Linked DNA regions of Homo sapiens: all the other regions are linked to region 1. The links come from fine-mapping of genetic effects on gene expression. A gene starts in region 1. Each other region holds a variant in brackets. All regions are shown on one strand. Distances are from middle to middle. Region 1 holds the start of ZNF608 (zinc finger protein 608). Region 2 has its middle 110 kb from the start of ZNF608. Region 3 has its middle 86 kb from the start of ZNF608. Region 4 has its middle 150 kb from the start of ZNF608.

Evidence for each region. PIP is the estimated chance that this variant, and not a neighbour inherited with it, causes the effect.
Region 2: its variant is fine-mapped to the expression of ZNF608 in whole blood (GTEx, PIP 0.96).
Region 3: its variant is fine-mapped to the expression of ZNF608 in whole blood (TOPMed, PIP above 0.99).
Region 4: its variant is fine-mapped to the expression of ZNF608 in thyroid (GTEx, PIP above 0.99).

What each region holds. Positions count from the first base shown.
Region 1 is chr5:124,741,773-124,749,878 of GRCh38, forward strand. It overlaps ZNF608 (zinc finger protein 608), which reads right to left and starts at 4,867. Exons shown (of 10, transcript NM_020747.3): 1 at 4,423-4,867; 2 at 2,312-3,400. The coding sequence starts at 3,217. RefSeq lists enhancers at 381-1,075, 1,719-1,768, 2,159-2,238, 2,299-2,368, 2,466-3,159 and 4 more and a silencer at 6,985-7,224.
Region 2 is chr5:124,855,690-124,863,798 of GRCh38, forward strand. No RefSeq gene overlaps it. Among named protein-coding and RNA genes, the nearest start is that of ZNF608, 110 kb to the left of the region's middle. The variant C/G (reference allele first, on the strand shown) is at 4,765.
Region 3 is chr5:124,828,127-124,836,235 of GRCh38, forward strand. No RefSeq gene overlaps it. Among named protein-coding and RNA genes, the nearest start is that of ZNF608, 86 kb to the left of the region's middle. The variant T/C (reference allele first, on the strand shown) is at 4,922.
Region 4 is chr5:124,595,856-124,603,964 of GRCh38, forward strand. No RefSeq gene overlaps it. Among named protein-coding and RNA genes, the nearest start is that of ZNF608, 150 kb to the right of the region's middle. RefSeq lists a silencer at 3,634-3,848 and an enhancer at 3,952-4,011. The variant G/A (reference allele first, on the strand shown) is at 3,897.

The DNA of each region.
Region 1 (8,106 bases):
GTGTGCCAAGGATGAAAGCATTCTTAAGAGAAGTCATTCTCAGGGTGAAGTGGGGGTGGGGAGGAAAGCCTTAAGGAATAATGTTTGAGATCCTGAGCCAACGCCCAACTTGACAGAGAATGGCCAACACTACAGGATCCAAGCCCCTGGATCCAAGCCTTTGAGGGGCCCCTGTGCCAACTCCAGTGGCTAAGATTGGTGGCACAGCTTCCTCTGGTATAGGATCAGAAGTGAATCTAAATTGCAGTGTGCTTTCTTCCCTCCCCCACCCCAGATCCACCATGACTTGTTTGCTCTTCATTTATGTAATTCATATTTATCACATTTATACTGCTCTAACTGAAGATGAGTTGCATGTATATGAATAATTTAATTCTTCCATTCTTCACCCAGTTTCCTCTGTGACTGGAAAGTGAAAAGAACACACAAAAACTGGAGAAACGACACCACGCTCTAATCTCAGTTGCCATGACAGCAGCCTTTTAGATACTGAAATGTTCCGATTGCCAGCTAAACAAAATTGTTGAATGTGAACATTTGGCTGGAAGATTAAAAGGCTAAGGGGAATGCAAAAGGGCAGTACCTCCCACATTCCAAGCAGCCAGTGAATCCAATCAAATGGCTCTGACTCCTTAACCACAGCCATTGTGAGCACTGGATTAGGGCAATTCATCTAGATAGTTAAAGCAGATTAGAACTGCAATTTGAAGACTATTGGCAACAAAAGTAAATGCCCTACTGTACTAAGTAATAAGAAGATTTCAGAACACCTTTTAGCGGAAATAATGTGAAACTACACATTTAAATATAAGACTCAAAACCCGGAATTTTCAAAAATTCATTTATATTCATTAATGTACCTGACCAAGAGGATATGAATTTATAAGCGTTTGGAGGCATTTTGCAAATTTGGCATTATCTACACCTTAATGTGCCTCTATCAACTTTTAAAAATCAAAACTTTACTCCTATACTCCAACTTAAATCCTGAACACAAAAACAAGAATATAAAAGTTTAAGTAGCAGTGAACCATTTTACACAGAAATAATTCTCCAAAGACATATTATCACCACTTACAATCCCAATCGCCAACTATAGCAAAAAAAAATCAAAATTATTTAATAAGGATGTTCCCCAACAACCATGCCACAACCCACATGACAGAAAGCTTGCTTCTGCAAGGCACAACCTGTAGAATTAATATGAAGATTAATTTCATAGAAATATCACACACACACCCCTAACTCCTTCCCAACCTGCCTAGTGGACAGAACACCTTCTGTTCCCAAACATTAGTCAATGTGGTCTATGACTAAGCAGCAAAACATGGTGTGGGTGTCGGGGCAGGCAGTTCTTCCAAGGCAGTGTCTAACTATAGACTTGTACAAAGAAGGGGAGAAGGGTCCAAATGGTCTAAATCAACCATCCACACCGTTTAAATGCAGCACATAATTCTATATTCCAATTCACTCAACCGTCTACATCCCCTTTGGCTACATTTTCACATTTCACGAGTATCAGTCCAGCAAGTCTGTTTTATTCTTCTTAGCAGCCGTCCAGCTCCCCAGTCAGGTATCCAAGTGATAACACTCTTAAATCTCTAGCTAAGAACTGGGTGAGGGAACAGGGGTAGAGTGCTAACAGCCACCAAAACCATCGAGTTTTTCTGCAGTTATGAAACCAATGACCCAACACATCAAGCTTGGGGTTTCATTCAGGACCAATAACAAGAACTCATTCAAGGATATCCTTTCACAGTACTATTTTGGAGACAGTAAGAAAAAATAAAAGGGATGAGGTCTGTAGAATGTAAATTCGAATCCTCGACATTCCTCTCCAGGGAGGGAACTTGAACCTTGCACCTAAGGACACATTACCCGCAATACTAGGATGAATAAATTAAAATAGAAAACTGTTCCCCTTAAGGAAGAAAGCAGGACAAGAGTCAAGAGGGTGCATGAGCAGGTTTTCTATTAAAAGCACACGGCAACCTGCTGACTAGTGAGGAACCGATCTACAGGGCAAAAGGTACTTAGAACACTCAGGCCCTCCCACCTGGGAACCCAAACACTAGCATCACAAGCAGCAGCAGCAGCAGCAGCAGCAGCAAGGACAGCAGAAGCAAGAGCCAAACACTGCACCCAAGTAGGCTCCCCCATATCAAATTTTAATATAAAGGATGCATATCATAGAAATCTCACAAAGAACCAGAAAGCATAAAGTGTAAGGCACACAGAGGCACACCCCCACACACCCACACAAATGCACACAGAGGAGAGTAGGACATCTAGGAAGGCGACTTTATCCTACCTTCTCAGTTTTCAGTTTCTTGATTCGCCTGTGGCTCTCCTCCTCCTCCTCTTCCTTCTTTACCAACATAGAGTTTCCCATGAGCCCTGAATCCGGGGCACTTTTGCTAACTTCCCCTGCAGCGGCGACGCTGCCACTCCCAGTGCCCCCGCAGTGGAAGGGGCTCGCGCCACCTCCATTGCTCTTGGCCCCAAAGCCATAGAGGTGCCCCCCGGAAGGGGCCTGGCTGCCACTGCCATTCTGGTGGCCCTGAAGCAGGTCGTGCTTGTCCTTCCTGGATTTCCCCGCATCCTTATCCCGCTTGGCGCCTCGGCTGCTCTGGCTTTTACCTGGCTTCTCCTCTTTGCTTTTCCCACAGGAGCCTGCCCCCGCGGTGGCGGCAGAGGTGCTGGTGCTGGTACTATTGCTGTTTGGGTTGCCGCTGCCGCCGCTGCTCACACTTTGACCCAGCGCTGAATTCATGCCAGTTGCCTCTCCAGGGCGCCCTTGGACTTCCTGCCTCTTGCCAGTGCTGCTGATCTCGGGAATCCCATACAAGGCAGCAGAAGGCAGAGATTTATTAGCATCCTTAGAAGTTTTACTCCTTTTCACTTTTGATTTGCTGGTCTCTTTGTGTGAATTCCCCTGGGGAGCAGAGGCCTGAACAGAAGCAAATTTTAGGCCATCAGCTAAGGCTGCGGTAGCACCAGCCCCACTGGAGGCCGGACCTCCACAATCCTTGGAGTTGCTGCTACTAGTGGTGGTGGTGGAATTATTCATCTCAAATTTCTGTCTGTCCTTCTCCAAATCAGCGTCCAAATCAATTATTAAATTTCCAACCCCGATTTCCCAATCATCGCCACTGTCATAAGTATCAACTGTATTTGGATCCACACCTTTTCCTGCAGTAGAAATGTTCACTGACATCCTGAAGATGAGCTCTCTAGAATAAAAATCCGATGAACTTTTCTTTGGAGATGAGGGGACATTCGTTTATCTCCGCTGGGCTTTCTCTCAAAGAAAAAAAAAATCTTCTAATCTTCCTCTTCTTTTTCCTGCCCCACGAATGTGTCCAGGGATTTTACACCCTCAGTCCAGGTCCACCTTTTCCTGTGAAGGGGGGGGGAAAAGTCGAATATTTCTTGTCTGGGTGTTACCAGAATAAAAAACGATTAGTATTGGGGAATCAGTAAAGGGGACAGGGAAGGATGGAGAGTAAGGTGGCTCATGTATTGTCCTCACAGTCCAATATCAGGTTTAAAGGAAAATAACCAAACCCGAAAAATAAACCTATGACAGTAAGCATCTTACGGTAGCTAAAAAGAAAATCCCTTTATCAACAACACAAGGATAATCACCTTTTTAAAAGCATTAAATTATCTTAAGGATCTGATTCAAGTCCAGAAAGGTTTTTGTGTTCTTTTTTAAAGTTTAGGATTTCAGTCTGGCACATGTGATATCTCAACCCCAGAAACACAGCCTGAACACTCAGACAAGAAGGAAGAACACAGCTTTAAACATCCCTAAACATGTCCTAGATCTTGCAATTTAGAAGACCAGACCCTGGAAGTTCTGAGGCTAGTTTTCAGAATAGAATGTTGCTAAATTTTCCTTATTTCTAATTTAGGTTTCAGTACTTCTTTTTACAAATTGTCTGGGCAATCTGTTTTTTGTTCCTAGTAAGGAACAGAAAAAACAACCAATAACTGCCCCCAACACACACACATACCTCCCTCCTATCCTCTTTTCCCAAACAGCTTCTACAATTTCTTTTTTGAAATATGCATGTCTTTTAAGAGCATTTCTCTCTAGAAAAGACAGTGTTATATAAAAAGTTAAATACCTGCCTTTTGAGAAAAAAATACATTTAAACAATTCTACCATATTCCTAGGTCAGAGAATTGCTCACTCTCTTAAATACGGTGCTACTGACTGTACAGAAAACTGATTAAGACATACACTTTAAGTGATCTGCGCCAAGGTGGCCTCAATGACCGCAAATGAGTGTGTTTGACAAAGAGCAGTTAAAACGGTTTTTAAAGGGATCAGCCCCTTTTTAACAGTTGATTGTCAAGAAAAAAATAAATAAATATACATACACACACACATACACACACACAGACATTGCTTACCTTTTAATCCTTTATCATTTTTTAATTAGGCCAGCAAATCAAAATGCCTTTCCCACTCCACTCGGCAAACAAGCCTGTGCCTCATTTTACTTAAACACCAAATGATCAAGAAGGAAGAAACCAAATAACACATCTCAGCCAGAATAATCACTCGATAACATTATTCCACCTCCCCACCCCCCTTTTGGCAAACGAATCAGTCCTTTTCTCCTTAAAAAAAATGTGTCACTGTACAGCTGGAAAATAATGTTTCACATTCACAACAGAAGCACCAAAGGTTTTTTTTTCCTCTTAACAAGCATCGAGAATAATAGTTTTTTAAAAAACAGAGAGTTTAGAGAAAAAAGTTTTCCCAACTTCTCATTCCGCCTTCAGTTCCAGACTTCAGAGTCACCGTGATCAGTAATGATCCCATGTAGCAAACCTACAGGCGTCCGCTAGTAACGAGACAGAATGTGCTAACATCGGGATAAATTAGTGAAAGGGAAGAAAGAATAAGAAGAAAGGACTGAAAATCTGGGCTGGATTCCGCCTGTTAGTCGGGAAGTGGCATTTTTCCGCCCGTCCTGACAGATTTGATTTCTTGAACTAACTTAAGAGAAAAGGAGGGGGGGAGTAGAGGGAGGAGGAGGAGAAGAAAGGGTGGGATGAGAAACTGGGCAAGAGGAGAAAAAGAAAGGTGTGGAGGAGGAGACAGCAGATGATTCAGTGAGCTGATAAACCAGTTATAACAGCATTCGCTCGGGGCGGGGGGCGGGGGGCTTGGGGCGGTGGGGTGGGGAAAATAACGGCGTTTAAAATGGGCTCAGTCTTCGAAACCTAAAGGATGTGATGTTTTCCTGTCTTATGTTGTTTTAAGAAAAAGGAACTGAGTTCCTAGTATAGCTCCCGAGGGGAGTGGAATCCTCTGTCGCTCAGGTCAGCCAGTCATGTGGTAATTCGATAATTAGAGTCAAAATAAGGTTTTTGTTTTCTTTTTTTTTTTTTTTAAGGCGACCCTTTTCGGGAGTTTTTCCCTCTTATACTCGCAGCAAACGGTGTGTCTCCCTTTTATTTATTTTTTCTCTCCTCTCCCTTCGCCCAGCCCCTCCTGTGTTTAGTCAGATGGCCCCGGAGCTTGGCTTAGTATTTTTAATTAGCTGGCGTTTGGAAGCTAAAAGCAGTAATGAATTGTTGATGGATTGGAAGTGGAGAGTCGCTTTGCTGGAAATGTCGGGGCTGGGAGAGGGGGATGGGCGAGTTAGTAACAACCAACCATCTAAAAGGAGCGATTTTGTTACAGTGCAAGCCTTTCACATCACGTGAGGATCAAGGGCTCAATTGGTTGTCGTGAGAACAAAAATGGTGACAAGCGTATCAAGAAAATACTGATCTGGTCTTTAAAAAAAAAAAAGCTGAAAGTCTCTCCCCTCCCCCTGCACACACTCCCCCAACCTCCTCCCCCCGCCCCCCCGCAGTGGGCGAAGCTACAAGTTATGAATGTGAAACATTTCTCGGAGATCTAGGATCTCCGAAGTTCGGAAGGAGCGAAATGTAATGAGCACAAGAGCAAAGCAGATGTTTTAAAGAAACACTTTATAAACCTTTCCTCAACTTATCTCCAATTTGTCGGCTTTCCCAAGGGGCCAGGGACGGGGACGCCTGGGGGAGGGAGAAGGGTATCTCCGAGCTACTTGGATTTTAGGGACCCCCACTTCATGTATTAAACAAAGAAAAACCTTTTGCTTGCTCCCCAGCCTGGTCCTGTAATAAATACACCATTGTTACTATTTGTGGGTTTGTTTGGGTTGGGTGGGGCTTTTATTTTTTCTCTTAATGGTATTTTTGTTGCTTGCTTTTTTAAGGAGATGGCGAATGGTAATTATAACCATTACATGTAATGAGTGACTATTCCCTTGTTTAATATTAAATTATCGGGCACTGGGATCTGACAGGAGACAGAAATCGGCTTGTTCTGCCCTTGCCCCCATTTTCCTGGATCGCTTTGGGAGGGGGGTCTGCCCAGCTAGGACAGAAGAGGGAGGGAGTAAGGTGAGCTAGAGAATTGACACTGCAGACCAGGATATGCAACTGTGTCACTTTTATTCTCCTTTGGGTTAGAGCCCAAAAGCTAATTTCCTCTAAGTTACCCCGAGTGCCCAGTCAAGCTTAATTTGTGTGAAGTTACAAATGCTTCACCCTCCACTGAATAAAATTCACCCTTCTTGGGTTGTTGTTCTAAATGCAAAAGCCAAACCCTGTAACTAGTTCCTCATTTCTATGCATAAAACTCGCACATTCCCCTGCATGAAGTCCCCGCTAAGTGCTATATAGAGACACACCACGCAACCGTACTTACGGTCTGTATTGGATCGAGTTGACCTTTTCCTTCTAACTGCATTGAATGTGTTTGGTTGCAGCCGCTTTATTTTGGAAATTATAATCTCTTCAACAAATTTATTATTAAAGAAGATGGACCATCAAATGTCACAGACCGTCCTGTGTATTTTTTATAAAAGCAAAAATTAAAATTTAAAAAAAGCAAAACAAAAATCCCCCTGGTGCACACACACAACAAGCTTGTTCTGCAACACTAAATCAGGACTGAAACACAACACACACACAGGGGGAGTGGAGCAAAAGAAGCTCTCAGCCTCTATACCTGAAAGGGACTTTTCTTTGTTCCCAGTGCCCTTTCGCATCGGGCCAATCAGAGAGCAGCTTTTATGAAACTGGGCTCTCTCATTGGCTAGCTGCTTTCTCTTGGCTACTGTAGGGGGTTGAGATATACACACGTATAAAACACACACTGAGAGCGGGTGGGGGTGCTGTGGGGGGTGGTTGTGGAGACAAAGCGTTTTATTTTCCAACCAGATTGGGGTTGAGGAACCTCCCGCAGTAAGAAGGCAAAAAAATGGTGCGCCCCTTTCAATTACTACATCATTCACATAAAACACTTATTTATTAAAACAAATCTCAAACAGGCTGCGAGGAGAGGATGTCGGTAAATACAAGTTTGATTGTGTTATCTTGGGGGAAATAATGTATGTGATCGCTCGGTGGCAGAGAGAAGCCAAACGAGCCGCTAGCGCGTAGCGAAGAGAAAAGGGAGGCTGGCTGTGTGGAACTGACTGCGAGCATTTTGCCGGCTTCCCTTCCTTGTTCCAAGGACTTCGCAGCCCAACTCCCAAGACTGATTTTCTGTATTGCAGCTTCTGGCTTTCAACCCTCCCCCCACCACTTTGCCCTTCCTGCAGTTTTTTTTTTTTTTCTTCCCTGTGTCTCTCTTTTTACTCGCTGATTAAATAAGAAAAATCGATCTGCGGGTAAAGGCGATGGTGGGGAAACAAGTAACCCTTTTGTTTCCAGGGCTCTGGTCTACAGGCACTGAAGTGTGAACGCAGGCGACCATTTAACCAACACTATGTGAATGGTTCTTCCCTGGAATTAGTAACAAATCTTTTCCACCTGGTGTTATGTGACTCCAAAAAAGAAAAACTTAATATTAAAATAAGGCCCCAGCTAAACATAGTAACACCTCGGGCCAGCCTCATCTTTTAAAAAATCGACTTATGAAAGTTAAATGTACTAGGAAGATTAACTGTTAAACAGTCCCAGTACACGTATTTAAACTGTGGAAGGGTCAGAATTCCTCTTCCCCCATATCTTTAACCCCACTGGTGGGGAAGGGGGCATCATGAATCC
Region 2 (8,109 bases), 110 kb after region 1:
AGTATTTAAATATTTGAGGGAAGTGTACACTTTTGTGTGTGTGCGTGTTGTGTGCTCCCTCATTTTAACTGGTTTTTAAAATTACAGCCCATTAATGGCCTGTCCCTGATGCACATAATTAAAGGATTCCTCCATTAGGGCTTTTCTTTTCTTTTCTTTTTTTGAGACAAAGTTTTGCTGTTGCCTAAGCTGGAGTGCATTGGCTCAATCATAGCTCACTGTAACCTCAAACTCCTGGGCTCAGGTGATCCTCCTGCCTCAGCCTCCTGAGTAGCTGGGACTACAGTCACACACCACTGCACCCCACTAATTTTTTTTTTAAGTAGAGACAAGGTCTCACTATGTTTTCCAGGCTGGTCTCAGACTCCTGGCCTCCAGCCATCCCAAAGTACTACTCTCCCAAAGTGCTGGGATTACAGACATGAGCCACCGGGCCTCTAGGACTTCTTGTTCTCTGGTGTTTTCAGAGCTTTGCTCCTTGGCTCTCTCCACCTGTAAGAGTCTTCCCCCAATTTTGGCCTTAGTGATGCTTGCTCCTGTTTCAAGATTCAGGAAGTGTTATGTTTGATTCTCCTTCCAGTTCAGGTTTACGAGATCAGTTTACCTGTCGTAGCCTTGTCACCAATTCTGTTATCTTTGGTATTTTACCTGACTTGCTGGTAGACCAGGATGTCCCTTGAAGGCAGAGTCCCCGTGTCCCTGGCACCTTAACCCAGGGCCTGGCATTTAGTAGATACTCAATGTTTGTTCAATGCACAGTGCACCCAGAAAAAAATAGTTAAATAAAATGATTATAATTCATTTCTGATACATTTTTGTTAACTTTTATCATAAAAAATGGCACTGTAAACTTAACAAGTGCCTGGCAATGATGAAGACTGGGTGAGAGATATTGAAAATGTGGGCTACTGAGTCATACTAAAGCAACTATCTCTCCTAACCAACTTTCTCAAAGGAATTTTTTTAAAGGCAGGTGTTTTTCATTTGATCTTATCAGGAAAATAAAGAACAAACAATAATCATGAAATTTAATGAGAATTTCTTTCTTAAAGCATGATCTTTTTTGTGCCTTGCTGAGCAGTGGAAGTTGAGTTCTCTCTTCTTGTTCCCTCTCTTCCTCTATGTATCTGGACTTCTTTTTGCACAGAGGGGACTCTTTTTTTCCTAGTGGTATTTTCACTCTTTTGTCCAAGCCCTTGATCAGTTCTCAGAGTTGGAGGCACCTGTGGTTCCAGATAAATCATAAAGCCACAATGCTGTCAGTGGCTCAGCACACCAAGCTCTCCTGTCTCAGGATTTCCCACACGCTGCTCCCTCTGCTCAGCTTTTCCTCATAGTTTGCTCCCTGTTTTCATGAGTTTGCACATTAGTGGGAAAAAACAGACAATAAGTAAATGAAACACAATATATCGTATGGTACAGAAAATGAAAGCCGAGTGGGGGCCTGAGAGTGCTGGTGGGACGCTCCTCATTTATACAGATTGGCAGGAAAGGCGGACCTGGCAAAGTGACATTTCAGTAGAGTCTGTGTTAAGTGAAGGGGACACTCTGCAGACATCTGGGGGAAGAGCTTTGTTGGAGGAGGCGCCACAATTTGGAAGGCCCTGAGAAAGGGTCAGTCTCGGTCTTTTGAAGAACAACAAAGAGGCCGGTGTGGCAGAAACACAGTGGTTGGAGATGAGGGCAGAGAGATAGCAGGACGTCAGGTCTTCTAGGGCCTTGAAGGCCATGAAAGGACTTTAATCTTTACACTACAAGTTCAAGCAGGGGAAGGAAATTACCTCCCATGAGCTGGGCGCAGTGGTCCATTCTTGTAATTCTAGAACTTTGGGAGGCCGAGGTGGGTGGATCACTTGAGGTCAGGAGTTCGAGACCAGCCTGGCCAAAATGGTGAAAACCCATCTCTAGGAAAATACAAAAAACTTAGCCAGGTGTGGTGGTGCATACCTGTAATCCCAGCTACTCGGGAGGCTGAGGTGGAAGGATCATTTGAACCCGGGAGGCGAGGTTGCAGTGAGCTGAGATTGCGCCAGTGTACTCCAGCCTGGATGACAGAGCAAGACTCTGTCTCAAAAAAAGAGAAACTACCTCCCATGCATTTTGGGAGGCTCCCTCTGGCTGCTATATGGAAATGAACTAGTTGGGGATAAGGATGTGAATCAGAAAATCTGCTTCAAAGGCTCTTGCCATGGTCCTGGCAATAGAACGAAGGGATCATGGATGATGCCACTACAAGAGAAGGTGGCAAGAGGTATCTGGTTCTATTTCCTGGTATGGTCTTCCCTGACCAAGCATGTTCCTCCCATACACTCATTCATAACACCTGTTTTGTTTTGTTTTCCTACAACAGTGGTTCCTACTTACATTTTTGAGTGGCACTCGGTTGATATCCCTTACTCTTCCCCTACAAGTAAATATATAAACAACATGAGGGCAAGGATCATGTTTGTTTTGTTAATCATTTCATCTCCAGCACCTAGTCAGTACCTGGCACATAGAACGTATTTAATAAATATTTTTGAACAAAAGGAAACAGAGTCAGTTCATGGTCAGCTAGTGGTTGCATCTGAGTATTAAGAGAATGAATGTCCAGCCAACCACTGGATTGAGAAAGAGGAGAAGTTGAGATTGCCAGAGAGCTGACACTAAATTTAAAATAAATCAGGGCCAGGCGTGGTGGCTCACACCTGTAATCCCAGCACTTTGGGAGGCCAAGGCAGGCGAATCACCTGAGGTCAGGAGTTTGAGACCAGCCTGGCCAACATGGAGAAACGCCATCTCTACTAAAATATGAAAATTAGCTGGGTGTAGTGGTGTGCACGTGTAATCCCAGCTACTTGGGGGGCTGAGGCAAGAGAATTGCTTGAACCCGGGAGGTGGAGGTTGCAGTGAGCCGAGATCACACCACTATACTCCAGCCTAGGTGACAGAGCAAGACTATCTCAAAAAATACTAATAAAATAAAATAAAATAAGCCAGAACAAATTTCGATAATTCTCTAGGTATTTTTTAAAATGCTGGTCCTTGATAGCATTTCTCAGTGTCTGGCATCATTTAGATATGGTCTGTCCCAGTATTCTGGCCTGTTGTAACCCCTGGGGCTTCTCTAATTTCAACACTGTGAGCTTTTAGGGAAGAGAGCAAGAGTGTTAATGCAAGAGCTATTTGGCATAGGAAATGGACAGAGTAGCCCTTGAACTGTTCTTGTTGTACAGGTCATTTTGTTATTAACGCTGATACTATGAAAGCTTTCATTTCTGGTGATTTCTTACCTGATAAGAACAAAATAAAATGATGCTCAGTGTGCCACTTCCCTTCATTGCCTCCAAATGTCCCAGGCTTCTCTTATAAATTTTTTTATGTGGTCTAGCTATAAAATTTGAGAAATGAAACTGAGAACTCCAGCAACTGCTTCTTGATTGGTCTCACATGGCGTGCATTGCTAGGTCTCTGTGCTGTTACAACCATTGCTGTCCCATCAGCTGTGTTTTCCTGAGGGTGGTTCAAGTCACAGTGCTGGTGATGTCACTCCTGTCCCCTCTGCTGAGATCGGCGTGGTTCCAGTAAGTGATGCGTATGGTAGCAATTTGCATCATGCTGTGTTATCCAAAACTTCTCTAATGTGCACTTTTTATAGCATCTCTGCTCTAAAATCCAGCACCACCAGCACTGCTTGTTTTAGAACTCTTTCTGAAGTCTGATCACACAGGAATAAGAATACACTCATGGATAGAAAATCCCTGACTGATATTGGCACCAGCTCTTTATTTGGAAAGGGGTTTGGTATATTGGATAATAAAGAGCACAAAAATTAAAATAAAAGCAAAACTCATTACTGTTCGTATCCACCATACCCTCAAAAGTCCTATTGCCTGACACAATGAATAGTATTCAAAATTGTAAGTTAAGGGCAATGCCAACCAATTTGGGGATCAGGCTTCTTTATGTCACTCCTTGTCCTGAAAAATCTCCAATGGCTTTTACAAAATGATGATATTAATGAATTTTAGGAATATGAGCTTGTGTGGCTTTCCCTTTTGAAAAATGTGTCAACTTCCCCATTCACAGACTGAAAGGCTTAGCAAAGTGCTTGTTAACAAATGTCTTAGTAATGGTAGATTTTCAATAGCATAAACTACGTGGTTTGACTAAATATGGATGAAACTATGCTTTTTAAGTTACATGTGAAATCAGCCACATTACTTCATCTAATATGCAGCCGTACCCAGTATGAGTATAAAAACATTCAATGATAATTACAATGGTAAAGATGATGGTGAAGGCTTTAGGGACATTGGGCAGCAGTCAAATCATTAACTGGAAATGGATACTATTTCAGAATCTTGAAAAAAAATACTGAAATGGAGTAAATAGGAGGCTCACTGGAGATATATTTAGGAAACAGAATTTGCTGCTTTCCAGTTAATGATGTGAGTCATGCCCAGTATCCCTAAGGTCATCAGCATCCTCCTCATCATTGTAATTATCTTTGAATTTCTCTCAAACTCACACTGAGCATGGAGGGCTGGTAGGTGCTTTGGTGCCTTCTATGGTTCTAAATCGTGGCTTATTTAGAGGTTGTTAACAGTATCATCTGGTTTTTAATTGGTCAGCAGTCAAAAACTTTAAAAATACTGAATCATCTCCCTGAGCAAAATTGGTGCTTTTCGGCTTCTGACTTGAGTTTACAGTGGGAATAATGTAAGAGCACATCTGAGTGGGAAGCTGTGGGGCTGGGATGAGTCAAAGGCCTCCCTCAATCCA[C/G]TTAGAGTTCTTCATCTCATCAGGGTGATTCGCCTGTCACTGTTCATATGGTGCCCGAGGCAAAGGGTTAGTACTGCTGATGGTGACATAGCCTATAGCAGCAGCGCAGCAATTACCTGGGAGTCACATTGTATTTGCAGTTTGTTTAGATGGATGGATGGAAGAGACTGCAGGTCAACATCAAGTTTTGTGGTCAGACTTGGCAAATACAGGAATAAAAATATGACCACAATGGTCATTTAAATATGAGCTACTGTAGTCTTCTGTCTATGCACCCTTAAATATGTGCTTCTGTTTATGAAGTTCTTACTCTACGGAACTACTTCAAGTCATTCTATTCCTAGAGGGAAATAAGTATCTAACATGATACTTATTTCCCTCTAGGTGAAGCTGGGTTTATTCAAGCATTATCAGCAACAGGGAGAGAGAAGAAAAATATTGTAAAGGAAATATAATAAAAGCCATCAGGGAAAGCTACTTAAGGATGAGTTTTTTTAAAAAATGTACTCAAATAATGAGATAAAAGGAAAAGTAGAGAGAAGAGAAAAATGGAAAGATGTACTGAAAACAGGAACGTGCAAAGAAAATATAAAGAAAATAATAGAGTGATAGCTGCAAAACCTGCCAAAGGTCTGCAGAAGGGAAAGGGGAGCAAAAAGACAACTAAATATATTGCATTATGCCATATGACCCAACGATTCCATTCCTAGGTATATACCAAAGATAACTGAAAACATGTCTACACAAAAACCTGTATGCAGATATTCACAGCAGGAGTATTCATAACAGCCCCAAACTGGAAACAACCCAAAGGCCTATCAACATATGAGTGAATTAGCAAAATGTGGTATACCCATACAATGGAATATTATTCAATGATGAAATGAAATGAAGTACTCGTACATGCAACAACATGGAAAAACCTTGAAAACATTATGCTAAGTGAAAGAAGCTACTCATGTATTGTAATTATTGTATTTTGTACATAATGTATTTATATGAAATGCCCAGAATAAGCAACTTTGTAGAGACAGAAAGTAGATTGGTGGTTCTCAGAGACTAGGGGGAGGAGGAAATGGAGAATGACTGCTTATGGGTATGGGATTTCTTTTTGGGATGATGAAAATGTTCTAAAATTAAACAGTTGTGATGACTGTACAACTCTGAATATACTAAAACCCACTAAATTGTATACTTTAAAATACTGAATTATGATACACATCTCAATAAAGTTGCCACTTAAAAAATATCCAGACTGCTGTGTTATTTCTTTTCCATTTTTTAGGGTCTTCTATAAGGATGGGCCCTAGCAGTATGCCTGAGGCATAGGTAGGGATGAGGCATGGGGGAGAAAAGAAGAAAAAAGAAAGAAAGGGGCTTAGAAGGATAATAAGAGACATTGGAAGATGGTAGATATAGAAGAAGAAACAATAGAAGAGAGAGTTTCAATTAGGTTTATTAAACTGCAAGGGACAGAGACTTACTCCAGTTAACTCAACAAAAGGGTTTATTGGTAAAGAAATACATGGAGAGACCTTGAAATGGCAAGACTTAGACACAAAGGCAGCTCTTGCAAGCAGCTCTGCCATCATCCTCATGGACTGTGTCATCTCACAAGATGTATCTACTTCTCCCTGTGTATCTGATGCATTTTTTCTCTAATATATGACTTTCTCTTTTCCCTCATAATTTCAGCTTGCATGTAACTTTGGCTTACAGTGTCCTTTCCAAACCTGACAATCTCATAGCATTCTTAGTACCATCTTTGCCCACTTCTTCGGTGGCTCCATGATTCATTAACAGTTTTCTGATTCTCATGTCCTGAGATAGGAGTCCAGTTAGTTCTGTTCACGTTTGCAATCCAAAACCTGGATCATAGGCCACTGGTCACCTAGCCAATCTGTAGACTGATCCTCCTTGGATTATGTGCCCATCTGTTCTCATTAGCTGAGAGCAGAACAGTGGCATTATCTGGTTCACAAAAGGCATAGTGGGTTGTAGGGAGGAAAGAAGGATGGCTGGGCTTGGTGGCTCAGTGGTCAGATGTAGTGGCTCATGCCTGTAATCTTAGCACTTTGGGAGGCCAATGTGGGTGGATCACTTGAGCCCAGCCTGGGCAACACAGGGAGACCTTATCTCTCCAAAAAACTTAAAAATTGGCTGATTGTGGTGGTATGTGCTTGTGGTCTCAGCTACTCAGGAGGCTCAGGTGGAAGGATTGCTTGAGCCTGTGGGGTAGAGGTTGCAGTGAGCGAAGATCATCCCATTGTACTCCAGTTTGGGTGACAGAGCAAGACCTTGTCTCTAAAAAGAAAAAAATATAAAAGGAAGAACGGGGGACAGTTTGCCAAATGACACCCTGCGTGGGCAGTGGAAAATCTTCCCACTACAGGGAGAAAAGTGGCATACAGAAGGGTGCAGTTGGAAACCTTGTCAACTGTCCCTGCCAACTGATAATAACTCTTGATAAACATGAAGTTCTTCCTCCATGCACCACTCAGAGGAAAATACTTATTGCCCATGTTAGTGCTTTAGTTTGGACCTTACTATTGTTTGAATATGATTTGTCCCCACGAAAATTCATGTTGAGGCTTGGTCCCCAGTGTGGCAGTGTTGGGAGGTGGTACCTTTAAAAGGCAATTAGGCGCCAGGCACGGTGGCTCACGCCTGTAATCTCAGCACTTCGGGAGACCGAGGCGGGCAGATCACGAGGTTAGGAGATGGAGACCATCCTGGCTAACATGGTGAAACCCCATCTCTACTAAAAATACCAAAAAAAAAAAAATTAGCTGGGCGTGGTGGCGGGCACCTGTAGTCCCAGCTATTTGGGAGGCTGAGGCAGGAGAATGGCATGAACCTGGGAGGTGGAGCTTGCAGTGAGCCGAGATCGCGCCACTGCACTCCCACCTGGGCAACAGAGCAAGACTCTGTCTCAAAAAAATAAAAAAACAAAAAAAACAGCAATTAGGTCATTAAGAGGTCTCAATGCCTTTGTCTCAAGAGTGAGTTCTCACTCTCAAGGGACTGGGTTAGTTACCAAGAATGCAGGTAGTTACAAAGTGAGGACACCTCTAATGTTTGCCCTTTTTGGCAAGTGCCTGCTTCCCTCCCCCCCCCTTTTTTTTTTTGAGACAGAGTTTGGCTCTTGTTGCCCAGGCTGGAGTACAATGGCACAATCTTGGCTCACAGCAACCTCTGCCTCCAAGGTTCAAGCGATTTTCCTGCCTCAGCCTCCCGAGAATAGCTGAGATGACAGGCATGTGCTACCACACCCAGCTAATTTTGTATTTTTAGTAGCAATGGGGTTTCTCCATGTTGGTCAGGCTGGTCTCAAACTCCAGACCT
Region 3 (8,109 bases), 86 kb after region 1:
CTAAAATCCTCTAAAGTTTCACCTAGATGATTTTGGTACTTATCTCTGGTAGGGATGCCCTGCTCTTTTTCTATATCAGAGGGATTTTATTGAGTTTCCTCTTTTTTTTTTTTTTTTGGTTCAGGTATGATGATAGGGCTGGCCTGAACCAGCTTGTTCATTAGTAATTTCTCCAGTGGGAGAAATCTGTAGGGCTACTACGTAGACCAGGAGCATGCCAACTAGTGCAATGGATTGTTCCTACGAACTGATTTTCCATTTTTAGGATTTTGGTGAGCTGATTGTTAAACACAGTCATTCTTCAAAATTAGATTATGCAAGTTTTAAATTAAATAAATGATGTTAAAACAAAGATAATATATTAAAATCGACCACCTCTTAATTATTTCCATGTTCTTGAGGTTATCTCCATCTATTGTAAGTGTATGATAGAAATGTAATATAATGGTGTACTGCTTCATCTTTCCCCAACTCTGTGTGCAATGACATTGCCTTGGTAGCTTGAAACTGACCATCATAGATGGGAAATCAGCAACACAAAAACTCGAACTGTCTATCCTCCCACACTGTAAACATCTATCCTTTCTTGTCCCCAAGGGCTGTTAGCATTTACCAGCACATTTAACAGCTTTCTATTTAAAGCTAATGGGACAAAAAAAACAAAACAAGCAAAACCACACACACACACACACAAACCCCCAGGATATCTAAGCCCTATGACTGTAACCTCTCCTACCCATACTACTGAATATAGTTAGTAGGTATTATCATTACACAACTCTATTTATAGAAACTATCCATTCATCCATCCCTTCATTTATTCAATATCTACTTAGTGTTGTTATGTAAAGTGTTGTGCTAAGCATTGCTGTAATGGGGGTGGGAGGTAAGTAGATACTATACAACTCAACAAAGAAACTGTTGAGTAATGGAAAGAACACGAGCTTTGGATTCAGAAGGATCTGGCATATGAATACAACCAGTTAGAGTGACCAAGAACTCTGCATTGGAACATTTGGTCATGCTGCAACTATAATACTGAACAGTTTTGAAAACTTGGGCTAGTTACTTTGCATCTCTGAAACAGTTTTACCATGTGCGGGAAAAAGCCATTTTTTAAGAGCCTTTGTGAGGATTAGGATTATATATGGGCACCCTGTTTAGGACAGTGCCTACATAGGTAGGCAGTTAGGACAGTGCCTTACATATGTAATATGCTCAATGAATGAGAGCTTTCAGAATTAGTCACAATAAAATCCAATATAAAATAGGCAAAGAACACTTTTGCAGGAGTTGAGATATAAGGTTTTTTTCTTGTTTTTTGGGTTTTTTTTTTTGAGACAGAGTCTTGCTCTGTTGCCAGGCTGGAGTGCAGTGGCGCAATCTCGGCTCACTGCAACCTCCACCTCCTGGGTTCAAGCGAGTCTCCTGCCTCAGCCTCCTGAGTATCTGGGACTACAAGCGCCCACCACCATGCCCAGATAATTTTTAGAGACGGAGTTTCACCATGTTGGCCAGGATGGTCTCGATCTCTTGACCTCATGATCGCCCACCTCAGCCTGTATCTTGCCCATTATCAAACTATTTCTTGCTGCCATATTCTTTTCTAGTATTTGACATCTTGATTTTCAGAACCTGGTCAATCTTACCATAAAAACCTAGCTGCCATTTCACACCTCTGCTCTGACTGGCTCAAGGCCTGCTCTTCTTTAATGCCTATAGCTGGGCAGAATGAAGCAGGTATTTAAATACTGATCTCTAAATATTTTAATAGAATGATGTATGTGTTCAGCTTATCTATTAGTGGGGTAAATTGTAATGCGAGAAGAGAAAATCAAGTTACAATACCTACATTGCAGATTTTCAGTGAGGCTTAAAAGGCATGAAAAATTCCCTAATGTTAGTAAATACTCAAGAAATGCTGGTTAATATTTCTACTTCTGGTCAATTGCTTTCCAAGTCGAAACAGCTGATAAAATTCTATACATTATACATTATGTTATTCATATTATGAAAATGTTAAGTCTTTCATTTCACAATATTATTAGCCAAGAGAATAAAGGTTTGTAGTGACTTAAAGATCTTGAAAAGCGACATACTGTTTTGTTTAAGAGGGAGGAAAAAGTCCACATAGAAGGTGATTAAAAAATACCCACATTGATCATCAATCAAACCATAAAGGGAATATAAGAAGAGCATCACTCGGCCGGGCATGGTGGCTCACACCTGTAACCCCAGCACTTTGGGAGGCCGAGGAACATGGATCACAAGGTCAGGAGATCGAGACCATCCTGGCTAATACAGTGAAACCCCATCTCTAGTAAAAATACAAAAAGTTAGCCAGGCGTGGTGGTGGGCGCGTGTAGTCCCAGCTACTCGGCAGGCTGAGGCAGGAGAATGGCATGAACCCGGGAGGCAGAGCGTGCAGTGAGCCGAGATCGCGCCACTGCACTCTAGCCTGGGTAACAGAGTGAGACTCCATCTCAAATTAAAAAAAAAAGAAAAAAAAGAGAAAAGCATCCCTATTGTTTGGAAGCCTTTTGCATAGTAGGTAAAAATATAATTTTGAATAGATATTAAAATTAGACACATGCAAACATTGATCTCACTGTTGAGGAAGTGGCTTCAAGAAAAGCTTAAATTGTTCACCTTCCCCTTCCTTCAGGGGAATTACTCTTATTATTCTTATTTTGTGTCTTGATACCATAATGCTGTGATCATAGATGCTGAATGATCACTCCTTTTTGGGGAAAAATGTGAGGAAACTGAATGGCTCCCTGGAGAAACCCTTTGGTGACAGGTAGCAAATCTGGTGTCTTAGCCTCCAAAGTAGCCCCCAGTCATCTTCACCTCCTGGTGTCCACACTTTTGTGTAGTTTCCTCTCCCATTGAATCACAGCTGCTCAGCATGGCTAATTAAGTATGGCAAAAGTGATGGTGTATGATTTCTGAACCTAGGTAATGAAGGGTGGGTTTTTAGATAAAATACAGTATATCCAATTAACTTTGAATTTCAGATAATAAAAATTTAGTGTGTGTCCCAAATATTGCATGTGTCATGCTTATACTAACACTTCATTTATTATTTACCTGAAATTCAAATTTAACTGGGTGTTATGTAGTTTTATTTGTGAAACCTGGCAGCCCTATAAAGGGCATTTTGGCTTCCACCTTCTTCTTTTAAATTGCTGTTTATGTTGTGAGGACACTCAAATAGACTTGTGGATAGACCCAGTGTGGAGAGGAGCTGAGGCTTCCTACCACTAGCCAGCAGCGATCTGCTGCCTATGTGAGACGGCAACCTTGGGACCACTGTTATGGCTCAGATATCTCTTTATGTAACACAATTTGTCTCTTACTTCTTGTTTGTTTGATTATATCCTTAGTGGCTACTCTAGCCTGTGGGTTCCACTAGAACAGTTATATGAGTTTTGCTCCCCATTGTGCCCAAGTGCTTAGTACACCACAGTGCCAGGCACTTGATTGGTTTCAGTTTTGTAAAATGATGTAAAATGTGCTCTGAGCCTCACTGTCTTCATCTATAAGAAGGGATAAAAATGGTATCCACCTTATAGGGCTGGTGTGAAGATTAAATGAGTTAATATGCTTAGAAATGTGCCTGGTACATAAGTTCCAAGGCTCAGTACACATGGGAAGAAGCTTCCTTCTCAATAATTAGCTTGCAATAGAATCACCTGGAGGTCTGGTTAAAACTCTAATTACTCTGATTACTGGGCCTCAACCTCCTGAGATTTTGATTAAGTAGGTCTGGGAGTGGCCAGGTGATGCTGACACTGCTAATTTTGGGACTGAGCCTCTGCTTTAGCTTAATGCTTTCCATGACTGTGACCATGCTGTGAGAGTGCCTTCTCATTTCTGTTTATAAATGATTTGTGTTGGCTGGGTGCAGACCTCAGCTCCAGCAGAGCTGTCAAGAGTGTGAAGTCTGATTTCTCTTAACTCAAGCAGGCATAGAAGTCTCTGATTTATTTCTGGCTATAATCAATACCTCTAGGCTAAGGGATGATCTTAGCCAGCAGGAAGTCTAAAATAGTAGAAAGATAGCAGCCTCTGTTCTAAATTCAGAGGTGAGCTCTGTTCAACTACTGCCATTTTTGCTGGCTCCTGGGCCCTGATCTTAGCCTGTTTGAAGTGCTAAATATATACATTCAGCTGAAGTCCTCACTGTACTCCAGTGTGGGGGGAAATTTCCTAGTAAATAATCCTGTAGTGGATCAGACACAAATGTTTTGTGGCCTCCTAATTGGCACAAGTTTAAAGTATTAAAGAGAACCTACAAGCATTTCCTATCATTAAACCCCTTTCCAGGTCACAAACATCTCCCAAAGTAGTGTAGGAGAGAAAAACTTTTCCTCTACTGTCTTCAGTTATTTGCTTGAGGCCTATAATTAAACTAATAAAAGATCAACAGGAGAAAAGGTATACACATTTTGTGAACATTTTTACTTGCATAGGGGCTTCACAGAAAAGAAATGAAAACCCAAAGAGGTGGTTAGACCTGGTGACTTATATACCATTTTAACAAAGGGTGATAAATTGTGGAGAAATGACTAAACAAAGGAAAAAGGGATTTGGGATCCTAAGTGTGATAAATTGTGAAAGTGACTAGGAAATGTAGATAAGTTTTGTTTTGTAAAGTTTGTTATGCAGACTTGGGTTGTCTCTGGTGATAAGAATTGTCTCTGGAGTTGCTCCCTTTTTCCTTGTAGAAAGAAGGGAACATCTTTACAAAGGAAATCTATGCCCTGCTTTTAGACAGAAAGGGGGAGGGCAGAGAGCTCTTCCTGTTTCTGCTGTTTCTCAATTGCCTTCAACTAAAAATAATCCTTACGCTAAAGTAGCATATTTGGGTTAGCATATTCTGATCCCTTTCAGCAGTATTTCTCAAACTAACCAACTT[T/C]CTTCCTTCCTTCCTTCTCTTTTCTTTTCTTCCTTCCTTTTTCTGTGTTTTCAAACAGGGTCTCCCTTTGTCACCCAGGCTGGAGTGCAGTAGTATGATCTAGGCTCACTGTAGCATTGATCTCCTGAGCTCAAGCAGTTATCCCACATCAGCCTCTTGAGTAGCTAGGGCTACAGGTGCATGCTAGTCCATCTGGCTAATTTTTAATATTTTTTTAGAGATGGGGTTTCACCATGTCGCTCAGGCTGGTTTAGAACTCCTGGGCTCAAGGAGTCTTCCCTGCCTGGGCCTTTCAAAGTGCTGGGATTTCAGGCATGAGCCATGATGTCTGGCAAGACTTTTATGTTCATACAAATCACCTGAAGTTTTTGTTAAAATACTGACTCTGATTCAGTAGATCTGGGCTGGAGCCTTGACATTCCACATTTCTAAGAAGCTCCTTAGTGGTACCATATCAAGGAAGGTTTTGAGCCTCATTACAGAGCAACTGAACATGAATTTAGCGGGAGTAGAGTGCAGGTGCCAGGCACCAAGTATTAGACCCTGCTACACAGTGAGGGTTGAGGATCACTGCTCTACATTCAGATGCTTGATGTCATTGTTTATTTTTGCCAGTGTACACTTCCACCATCCATGTAGCCTAGCCTGTACTACTTTTTTATTCCTACAGGACCCAGGACAAATGGAATCTTTGCCTTCCTAAGCCCTACAGGCACCTATTTTAAATTCAAGCAAACATCAACATCAAGGGAGCCAAGCACTACACAAACTGTATATTTGGAAAGAAAATGGTGTATTTATTGCTTATGCCCTTAAAGGAAAAATGGGACAAACCATTTGAAATCAGAAGGTACTAAAAATTACGAGATATGCAGTCCCCACACTGTGTTCCCTGCAATTTGGCCACAGGAATTCTCTGAGTGGCCTTTGCTTAGCTCCATCTCTGGGTAGGATGGGCCTTTGGCCATCCATGTTACACTTTGATCCTGACTCAGCTCTTATCTTTTCTATACATTTAAGTCCCTTCAGAGGTTCAAGTCTACTCTAGGTTAATACCTCAGGCCTTTCAGGCACATAAGTAATATTTTTAAAAAAAGCATCCTCATATACAGAAAATTTCCCCCAAATTTATCCTTCTTTGTAACATATCTATGATCTCACATTTAAATGTTATCACACTTACAGCAAAGGCAATGCTAAGAGGAAAGTTCGTAGCCTTAAATGTCTTCATCAAAAAGTCTGAAAGAGCACAAACAGGCAATCTAAGGTCATGGCTCAAGGAACTAGAGAAACAAACAAACCAAACCCAAACCCAGCAGAAGAAAGGGAATAACCAAGATCAGAGCAGAACTAAATGAAATTGAAACAAACAAACAAACAAAAAACAAAGACAAATGAAACAAAAAACTTGTTCTTTGAAAAATATAAATAAAATTGATAGACCATTAGCAAGATTAACCAAGGAAAGAAGAGAGAAGATCTAAATAAGCTCAGTTAGAAATGAAATGAGAGATATTACAACTGATACCACAGAAATACAGATCATTCAAGGCTACTATGAACACTTTTTCACATATAAACTAGAAAACCTAGAGGAGATGGATAAATTCCTGGAAAGATACAACCCTCTTAGCTTAAATCAGAAAGAATTAGAAGCCCTGAACAGACCAATAACAAGCAGAGAGATTGAAGTAGTAATAAAAATATTACCAACAACAACAACAAAAAGTCCTGGACCAGATGGATTCACAGCTGAATTCTACCAGACATTCAAAGAATTGGTACCAATTCTATTGACACTATTCCACAAGATAGAGAAAGAGGGAATCCTCCCTAAATAATTTTATGAAGCCAGTACCACCCTAATACACAAACCAGGGAAGGACATAACAAAAAAAGAAAACTACAGACTAATGTCTCTGATGAACATAGATGCAAAAATCCTCAACAAAATACTAGTTAACTGAATCCAACAGCATATCAAAAAGGTAATCTACCATGATCAAGTGGGTTTCATATCATGAATGCAGGGATGATTTAACATGCACAAGTCAATAAATGTGATACACCACATAAACAGAATTAGAAAAAAAATCACATGGTCATCTCAATAGAGGCAGAAAAAGCATTTGACAAAGTCCAGCATCACTTTATGATTAAAACCTTCAGCAAAATCAGCATACAAAGGACATACCTCAATGTAATAAAAGCCATCTATGACAAACCCCCACAGCCAACATAACACTGAATGGAGAAAAGTTGAAAGCATTCCCTGTGAAAACTGGAACGAGACAAGGATGCTCACTCTCACCACTTCTATTCAATATAGTACTGAAATTCCTAGCCAGAGCAATCAGACAAGAGAAAGAAATGGCATCAAATCAGTAAAGAGAAAGTCAAATTGTCACTGTTTGCAGATGATCTCATTGTATACCTAGAAAACCCTAAAGACTCCTCCAGAAAGCTCCTGGAATTGATAAATGAATTCAGCAAAGTTTCAGGATATAAAATTAATGTACACAAATCACTAGCTCTGCTGCACACCAACAGCAACCAAGCTGAGAATGAAATCAAGAACTCAATCCCTTTATGATAGCTGCAAAAAAATAAAATAAAATACTTAGGAATATACTTAACCAAGGAGGTGAAAGACCTGTACGAGGAAAACTACAAAACACTGCTGAAAGAAATCATAGATGACACAAATGGAAACACATCCATGCTCATGGATGGATAGAATCAATATTGTGAAAATGACCATACTGCCAAAAGCAATCTACAGATTCAATGCAATTCCCATCAAAATACCACCATCATTCTTCACCAAAAAAAAAAAAAAAAAAAAAAAAAAAAAAAATCTTAAAATTCATATGGAACCTAAAAAGAGCCTGCATAGCTAAAGCAAGACTAAGCAAAAAGGGCTGGGTGCGGTGGCTCACGCCTGTAATCCCATCACTTTGGGAGGCTGAGGTGGGCAGATCACCTAAGGTCAGGAGTTTGAAACCAGCCTGGCCAACATGATGAGCCCCTGTGTCTACTGAAAATACAAAAATTAGCCAGGCATGGTGGCAGGTGCTTGTAATCCCAGCTACTAGAGAGGCTGAGGCAGGAGAATCACTTGAACCCCAGGAGGCTTTGGTTTCAATGAGCCGAAATCACACCATTGCACTCTAGCCTGGGCGACAAGA
Region 4 (8,109 bases), 150 kb before region 1:
CTGGAGTACAGTGGTGTGATCTCGGCTCACTGCAACCTCCGCCTACTGGGTTCAAGCAATTCTCCTGCCTCAGCCTCCCAAGTAGCAGGGACTACAGGTGCATGCCACCACTCCCAGCTAATTTTTTGTATTTTTAGTAGAGGCAGGGTTTCACCGTATTAGCCAAGATGGTCTTGATCTCCTGACCTTGTGATCCACCCACCTTGGCCTCCCAAAGTGCTCGGATTACAGGTGTGAGCCACTGCGCCTGGCCTTTTTTTTTTTTTTTTTTTTTTTTTGAGATGGTATCTCACTCTGTTGCCCAGGCTTGAGTGCAGTGGCGCAATCTTGGCTTACTGCAACCTCTGCCTCCTGGGTTCAAGCAGTTCTCCTGCCTCAGCCTCCCCAGTAGCTGGGACTACAGGCGCCCACCCACCATGCCCTGCTAATTTTTATATTTTTAGTAGAGACAGGGTTTCACCATGTTGGCCAGGCTGGTCTCGAACTCCTGACCTCAGGTGATCCACCTGTCTCGGCTTCCCAAAGTGCTGCGATTACAGGCGTGAGCCACCACACCCAGCCAAGGAGAAAGTTTTAGTTTGGCACTGGTATGCGGTTGCCACCTCTCTAACCCTGACATCTCTTTCAGAAAAAGAGAACAGGCCTCAAACTCAGATCCTTTTTAGCATTTAAAGTCTAAACTCCATTGTTTTGTCTCCACAGTTTTGAATGGAGTCTCCTATTTATAGCATGGGATATCTTGTTTCCTTCTATAATACATTTATTTAAATTAAAATGTAGGTCAACTTTTTTTAAGATTTGGTAAATTTTAGAAAAGTGGGTTCACAGATAACCCAAGTGGGTGAAGCACTGCTTGAAAGATATATTTTTTAAATTGTTTATCTCTAAACCCTGGTGAACATCTTTGGCCTGGAGCTTTGCATGCACAATCCATGGATCAACAGTAGTCAAGCTAGCACTAGTTCTGGAAAAGGGGTGAGGAGCAGGAAGAAGGAAGCAGTCTAGACAGTGATGCCAAAAACCAAAAAACCCAAAAACCCACGAGTTTCATAAACACACAAGTCCCCCATAAATCAACTCAAATACCCAGGCATGCCTCACTCACCCCTACCTCACAGACTGCTCTGTGGCCTGTCTCAGATCATTGCTTTACCTGATTTCACCGGAGTAAATGCTCAGCTGTGGAAGGGGCAGACCACATGACTCATCCTAGACAAACAGCCTCTGAAGATTTGGACCTCACTTTTCCTAACCATGACTCAACATATTGAAGCTCATTATTTGTATTTATCTTTGAGCTATGTTTGAAATGGAGATCACAGCCTCAATTTGGTGATCTTAAATGTTAGCAGAAACTAATCTAAATTCCTAGCGTTAGGAATTCCTGGGGAAATCAAACCAGGGAAATTACATGACACATGGCCAAGAATGTATGTAAGAAGTAATTACGCTGAAATTCCTTTGTTATCTATTAATATCAACTGCATGGCACTGTGTCAGCATGGGGATAAACAAGTGGCCCTGCTGGTTCAATTGTTCAATTCTTTCATTCGAAAGGAGATAAGACAAAACAATAGATTCCTCTTTGGGGAGAAATGGCCTCTTATTTTTGTGGTAAACAAAATAGCTTTTTGGATAAGTCCTTTCATCATTTGATCCATTGACGGCTGAGGTTAGAATTTCAAGATATTTATCCTGAACAGAAGTGGTAGGAGAGAAAAATAGCAGATGTAGAGTAAAAGGTGGTTCCAAATGTTAGGAATGAGATTTACAAGGGAGCAGGGTTAGAGCCAAAAGAAGTAAAAGTAAGGCAAGAGGACTAGAAATGAAGCTACCCAGGCTGACTGTCTTCAGGTAAAGATTAAAGGAGCTTAGACACTACCATAAGTCATTTAAATAATTGCACAAGAAGTAATTATTAAATACATTTTATTTGATTAATAAATATGTACAGATATATAAAATTGGTGCATGCTTAATTCTTCAAACCAGTCTTTTAGACTTTGCATTAATGGGATGCTCTAGCTAGTCTCTAAGAATAAAGCCGGTAGAATCCATGGTCATAATCCTGTCTGGTCTGCCAAAGACCTGGGTAACCCCAGTAACACTGACAACACAGCCAGGGAAGAAGTGGACTGCCACTTGCTACTTTGACATTTCAAATTTTATATTTTCAATAAAAACTGTGCTGTTGGCCGGGCACGGTGGCTCACGGCTGTAATCCCAGAATTTTGGGGGCTGACGTGGGTGAACTGCTTGAGCTCACAAGTTTGAGAACAGCCTGGGCAATGTAGCAAAACCCCACATGTCTACAAAAGATACAAAAATTAGCCGGGCATGCTGGTGCACACCTGTAGTCCCAGCTACTCAGGAGGCTGAGGTGGGAGGATGGTTTGAGCCCGGGAGGTGGAGGTTGAAGTGAGCCAAGATTGTGCCACTACACTCCAGCCTGGGTGATAGAGCCAGACCTTGTCTCAAAAACAAAACAAAACAACAACAACAAAACTGTGCTGTCATGGTTTTTGGAAAATATATTCACATACCACATGAGAATATATTTGAGATAAGTCAAAAGATCTTACTTATTTAAAGTAAGCCAATGGAAACCTTTCTTTCTTTGTTACCAATAAAGCTGCAGTAGAATAACTTCTAAATACAGACTAAATATACTTAAATATCATCCATATTATTATAAAGTTAAAATGAAGTTATATAAATAGTAATAAATACAACAAAGACAGTGACCAAGAAATTGATCATTTCTTATATGAGCTAGCAAGCATATCTCAAAGTCCTACACTGTACACTATAATTTGAATTTATTCCTCTGTAAAAAGTCATAATCCCACATTCCAGAGGTTTAAACTCCCCAAATCTGAGTGAGCAAATACCATGTAGTGAGGCTATTCTATACTTTCATAAATTTGATTTAAAAATTATATGTTAATATTTATGGTAAACTGTGCAATGAGGCAATGTAGATATCTATGCATAACCACAACTATAAAAGGGTAAGTCTGAGTCTTTTTTATTTGTTGACATATTTAAAGTGATTTTCATATGTTCAGATTTCACAAATATTGAATTTTACAAATGGAAATTACCTTGGAGATCCTCCTTGAAAAGACAGAAATCCAATAAAGTATAATTGTTAGACCTGGGAAACACCCTAGCTGGTATGCTACGCATTAGATATCTGACTTTGAGCAAAGTTCTTAGTTTGCTGAGATTCCATAGGAAACAGCAAAGCTAACTGTATTTACCTTTCAGGGCTTTTTTGAGGGTATGATGGAGTATTGCGTGTCAAGCTTGTAACACTGCCTGGCACAGAATACGGGCTTAATAAACACAAGCTGTTGTCATCAGTATCATCAACAATAGCTTCGTTAACCTAGAAAGGTTAAGTGAGGACTTGACCATGATCAAACAGCTGTAATAGTAAATGGCAGAGTTAGGGCTTGCATTAAGGTTTCCTGAATTTTCATACAGTGCTATTCCCACTAAACCACAACTGCCACTGATGTTTCATCCAGTTTTTAAGATCACATTTTTAAAAGACTGATTAATGTGGTGTACCCTGCAGCTTCTGTTCAGCTTCATTTCAACTTTTCAGTGAAGCCACGGGAACCGTGTGTGATGTGAGATGAAACTGCAGTTGAACGGGGTCTTTAAGCCCGTTAGAGAAATTTCTCTTGTGTTCCATTAGTTTAATTATGACATAGTTAAACAGACGCTGAGAAATTTCAAACCTGGGAACATTTGCCCACAGAGGCACGCAGGCCCTGGCAGTAGCTCTTAATCACATTCCTCAGTCAGGTGTCAAGCAGAACAGAGGCACAAGCACACAAGCAAGTTTTGTTTAGTATACCTCAAAAAGCCAGCCAAGTGGCAAATGT[G/A]GACATCTGTTCTAGACTGTGGCTGTCCTGTTTTTTCAGTCTAATCTGTCAAGATAACCATTTCCCCATTCTCTTAAACAAACACAGACTTCCTTGTTTAAACACTATAACAGTTCTAACAGAACACACAGCTTTTAATCATTCTGTGTTAAGTACACTGGCAAGAGTCTGAGAAAAGAATCAAAACATCTTAAATGTAAACTGGCTGATTTTGCTACTTTGCAAATCCCAGGAAACAGAAAAAAGAAACCTGAAATTCCAGATAAAAGGAGTACAACATTGTAGGAGAGACTGCAGTGAATTTTACATTTTTAATTGAATTGGAAATGCAATTGTGAACCCAGTTCAGCTTCTAATGAAAAGAGCGATCTGATCATGTTTTATTTTTTCTTCGAAGTTTTGCAAATTTAAGTTCATTTGTTCCAATGGTTTTGTATATATTTATAAAGGCAACACTAACGCTTGAGCAGAGTGATATTTTCAGGAAAGCTATTTAAACACAGAGCAAAGTTACTTCTCTACTAACTCTCTTGAAAGCCCTTTAGCATAAAGCTCTGTCATAGTGCAGAGCACATTTTTTTCCATATAATATTTGAGAATAAAAATGTGAAGGGTGGGGAGAAAACCTGTCACGGTGGAATAAGCAGGAATATTGACAACACTGAAGTTCGGGTGTGCTTCCTGAGCCTCGATACTTACTCTTCATTTCACTTGCAAAATATCCAGGCTCACCCTGAGATATGAAAAAGTTAAAATTTACATAAAACCTGTTATGTTTTCTACTTGGAGAAAAATGAGGGTTAAATAATCCAAACTCCGCTCGTGGCTCACGCCTGTAATCCCAGCACTTTGGGAGGCTGAGGCGGGAGGATCACTTGAGCCCAGGAGTTCAAGACCAGCCCTGGCAGTATAACGAGACCCCTGTCTCTACAGAAAATTTTAAAAATTAGCTGGGCACAGTGGTGAGCACCTGTAATTCCAGCTACTCAGGAAGCTGAGGTGGGAGGGTGGCTTGAGCCTGGGAGTTTGAGGCTGCGGTGAACTATGATTGCACTACTGCACTTCAGCCTGGGTGACAGGGAGACACTCTGTCTCTAAAAACATAAAAATAAAAATAAAATAATAATTCAAATTCTACATTGTCCATGCTTGAGTGTGGTTCATGGACAGGTTTTCATCCCAACCAACTTAAGGTCATATCCCGGTTCTATGACTTAATTGTGACTGTACACAAGTTAATAAACTTCTCTGAGCCTTTTCTATGAAATGAGGATAAAAAAGTATCTTACAGAGTTCTTGAGAAGATGAAAGAAGACACATTTGCAATGGTAAGTGCTTGATAAAGTTAGTACTTTTTTTTTTGAGATGGAGTCTCGCTCTGTCACCCAGGCTGGAGTGCAATGGTGCGATCTTGGCTCACTGCAACCTCCACTTCCCGGGTTCAAGCAATTCTCCTGCTTCAGCCTCCCGAGTAGTTGGGATTACAGGCACCCACCACCACACTCAGCTAATTTGTGTATTTTTAGAAGAGATGGGGTTTCGCCATGTTGGTCAGGCTGGTCTCGAACTCCCAACCTCAGGTGATCCACCAACTTCAGCCTCCCAAAGTGCTGGGATTACAGGTGTGAGCCACCGTGCCTGGCAAAGTTAGCACTTTATTTTATTTTATTTTATTTTATTTTTGAGATGGAGTCTCACTCTGTCGCCCAGGCTGGAGTGCAGTGGCACAATCTCGGCTCACTGCAAGCTCTGCCTCCTGGGTTCACGCCATTCTCCTGCCTCAGCCTCCTGAATCACCGGGACTACCGGCGCCCACCACCACGCCCAGCTAATTTTTGTATTTTTAGTAGAGACGGGGTTTCACCGTGTTAGCCAGGATGGTCTCGATCTCCTGACCTCGTGATCCACCCACCTCAGCCTCCCAAGGTGCTGGGACTACAGGCGTGAGCCACTGTGCCTGGCCAGTACTTATTATTAAGCAGAATATCCATTAACACCTGTCAAAATTGGACAAAGTCCCAACTGACATAAAATTCAGGTTTAATAAAGATTATATACAACATATGAATTACCAACTTCATAAAATTAGAAAATAATTTAACAGTCAAAAACTAAACCTGTTTAAGAGATTTAATGCCAGGAGTGTAAGTCTCATGTCCAATTCCTTAGGTGAATAAGTGGCCAGAATTTGCACAATTTTCACAGTCATCCTAACACCGCTAGCTGGGCCACAGTGGGACACAAGTGGGACCCCAGTCTAAAAACTCTGGCGTTTGGCTGCCTTGTAGACTGTGGTCCAACCACAGATGGCTTGACGGCACTAGTAGATTGGGACTGGCTGGCCAGTCAAATCTTCCACTTGAATGACAAAGTCAATCTTGACAGCAGTGGTAGCAAAGACCAACGGAAGCTTAGTTTCCATAATGGCAAAGTTCAGGAGTTGGGAGCAACAGGGTCCTGTGCTGAGGAGCCAAGGAGAAACTAGAAAAGAGGTAAAAATTCTGGTCCTCCAGGAGCTGGGGCAGTGTGGGAAATGGATTGTTTTTAATCATTCTTCATTTCCTTTTGAATCCTTACAATATATAGCCTAATTGAAGTAGCCTGGATATATATTAGTTGTTTTGCAACCTGAAAGAGTCTACCAGATCATTTTATCTTTGATGATTCGGAACACACTTGAAGATCTCAAAACACTTGAGGGTCAGAATTGTTTGCATCAGTTATCACGTAAGTATAGATGTCTAATTACTTCCTCTTGAGATTTTATGTCTATATTCTGATAGCTGCTACTAAGCGGTAGATCAGGACACTAATTGGGGTCTCTTGGGTCCAACCTATATACTTGATTTAAACAAATATTTATTAAGAAACTGCTATATGTAAGGCACACTGATAAATATTGTGAGCAGTTAACAAATAAATAAGAAGTTTCTCTGCCATCAAGAATATTACAACTTAATGGTATTTGACAAGTTCACAAGTACTATGAGATAGAATGTGATAAATGCTTTAAGAGAGAAGCAAAACTTTCACCATGATCCAGAGGAGGAAGAAATTACAGGCACTTGGGAGGAGAAACATGTCAGGAATCAGGAAAAGCTGTGGGAGGGCATGACTCTAAACACCTTGAAATCCAAGTGAAATTTTGACAGGAAAGGTGAAACCCATGATAGGGAGCAGGAAGAAGTATTGTTTGAGGAATAGCAAGAATCACTGATTGGCTGCTGTGTAGAGAACTTCTAGTAAGAGATAAAGATGGAAGGAAGCTTAAGGCCAGAAAATGAAGGACTTCAAGTGTCAGAATAAGGAATTCAGAATTTATTTAGTAAGTAATGGAGTCTGGTGAGGGTTTTGAGCAGGAAATGATACAATCAGCTGAGTTGGAGGCTGACACATGCTTCCACACTTGAATAACTTTTCTATAAAAGTATGACTTTATCAAAATCTTTATGAATAAAATAACACATACCTATAAAATATGAAGAGGCAATAGAAACACAATAGAGACTAAGACTGTAAATAGTATAACATCTAGGCATAATGTGTTATCCAATTTGCCTTATCAGAGAAAGATGTCAATTTTCTCTCCTAATAATCACTTGAAGCTGATTTCGCAACCATTATTCTCTTCTTCACAGAGCATGGAAAAAACTGGTCCTTCATCAGCTTCTCTCCCTAAGTTGCAGGATAAAGTAGTTATAAAGATTAGGAGCTAGATTGCCTTGAAACTGGAATTTTCATTCATAATTGGCTCAGCCCTTTTGGAGAGCAATCTGGCATGTGTATTAAAAGCTATGGATTAGCCATACCCATTAACCCAGTGTATCCACTTGCAGGTCTCTAGCCTCAGGACATTTTTAAAACAAGGAGAAAGTAATGTGAATTAATATAATCCAATATTATATAGTATAGGAACATATATGGCAATATGATTCACATAATATATAGTAATAAGATAGTATAGTTTACTTATATATATGTAAAAATCAATAAAAACTTAAATTTAAAAAAATAGGAAGACCTCTGTATATAAATGATGAACCATCTATTTCATGAACTGTTATACAGCTGTTTTAAATAATAATTATGAAAACTGGATTTAAAAAATCCAGCAATATGTCTAAGTATTAAAAAAAAGCATGATTACAAATCTATGTAAAAACAGATTTATACAAAAGAGACTTGATGACAACATATATTTTTTAAAAATACC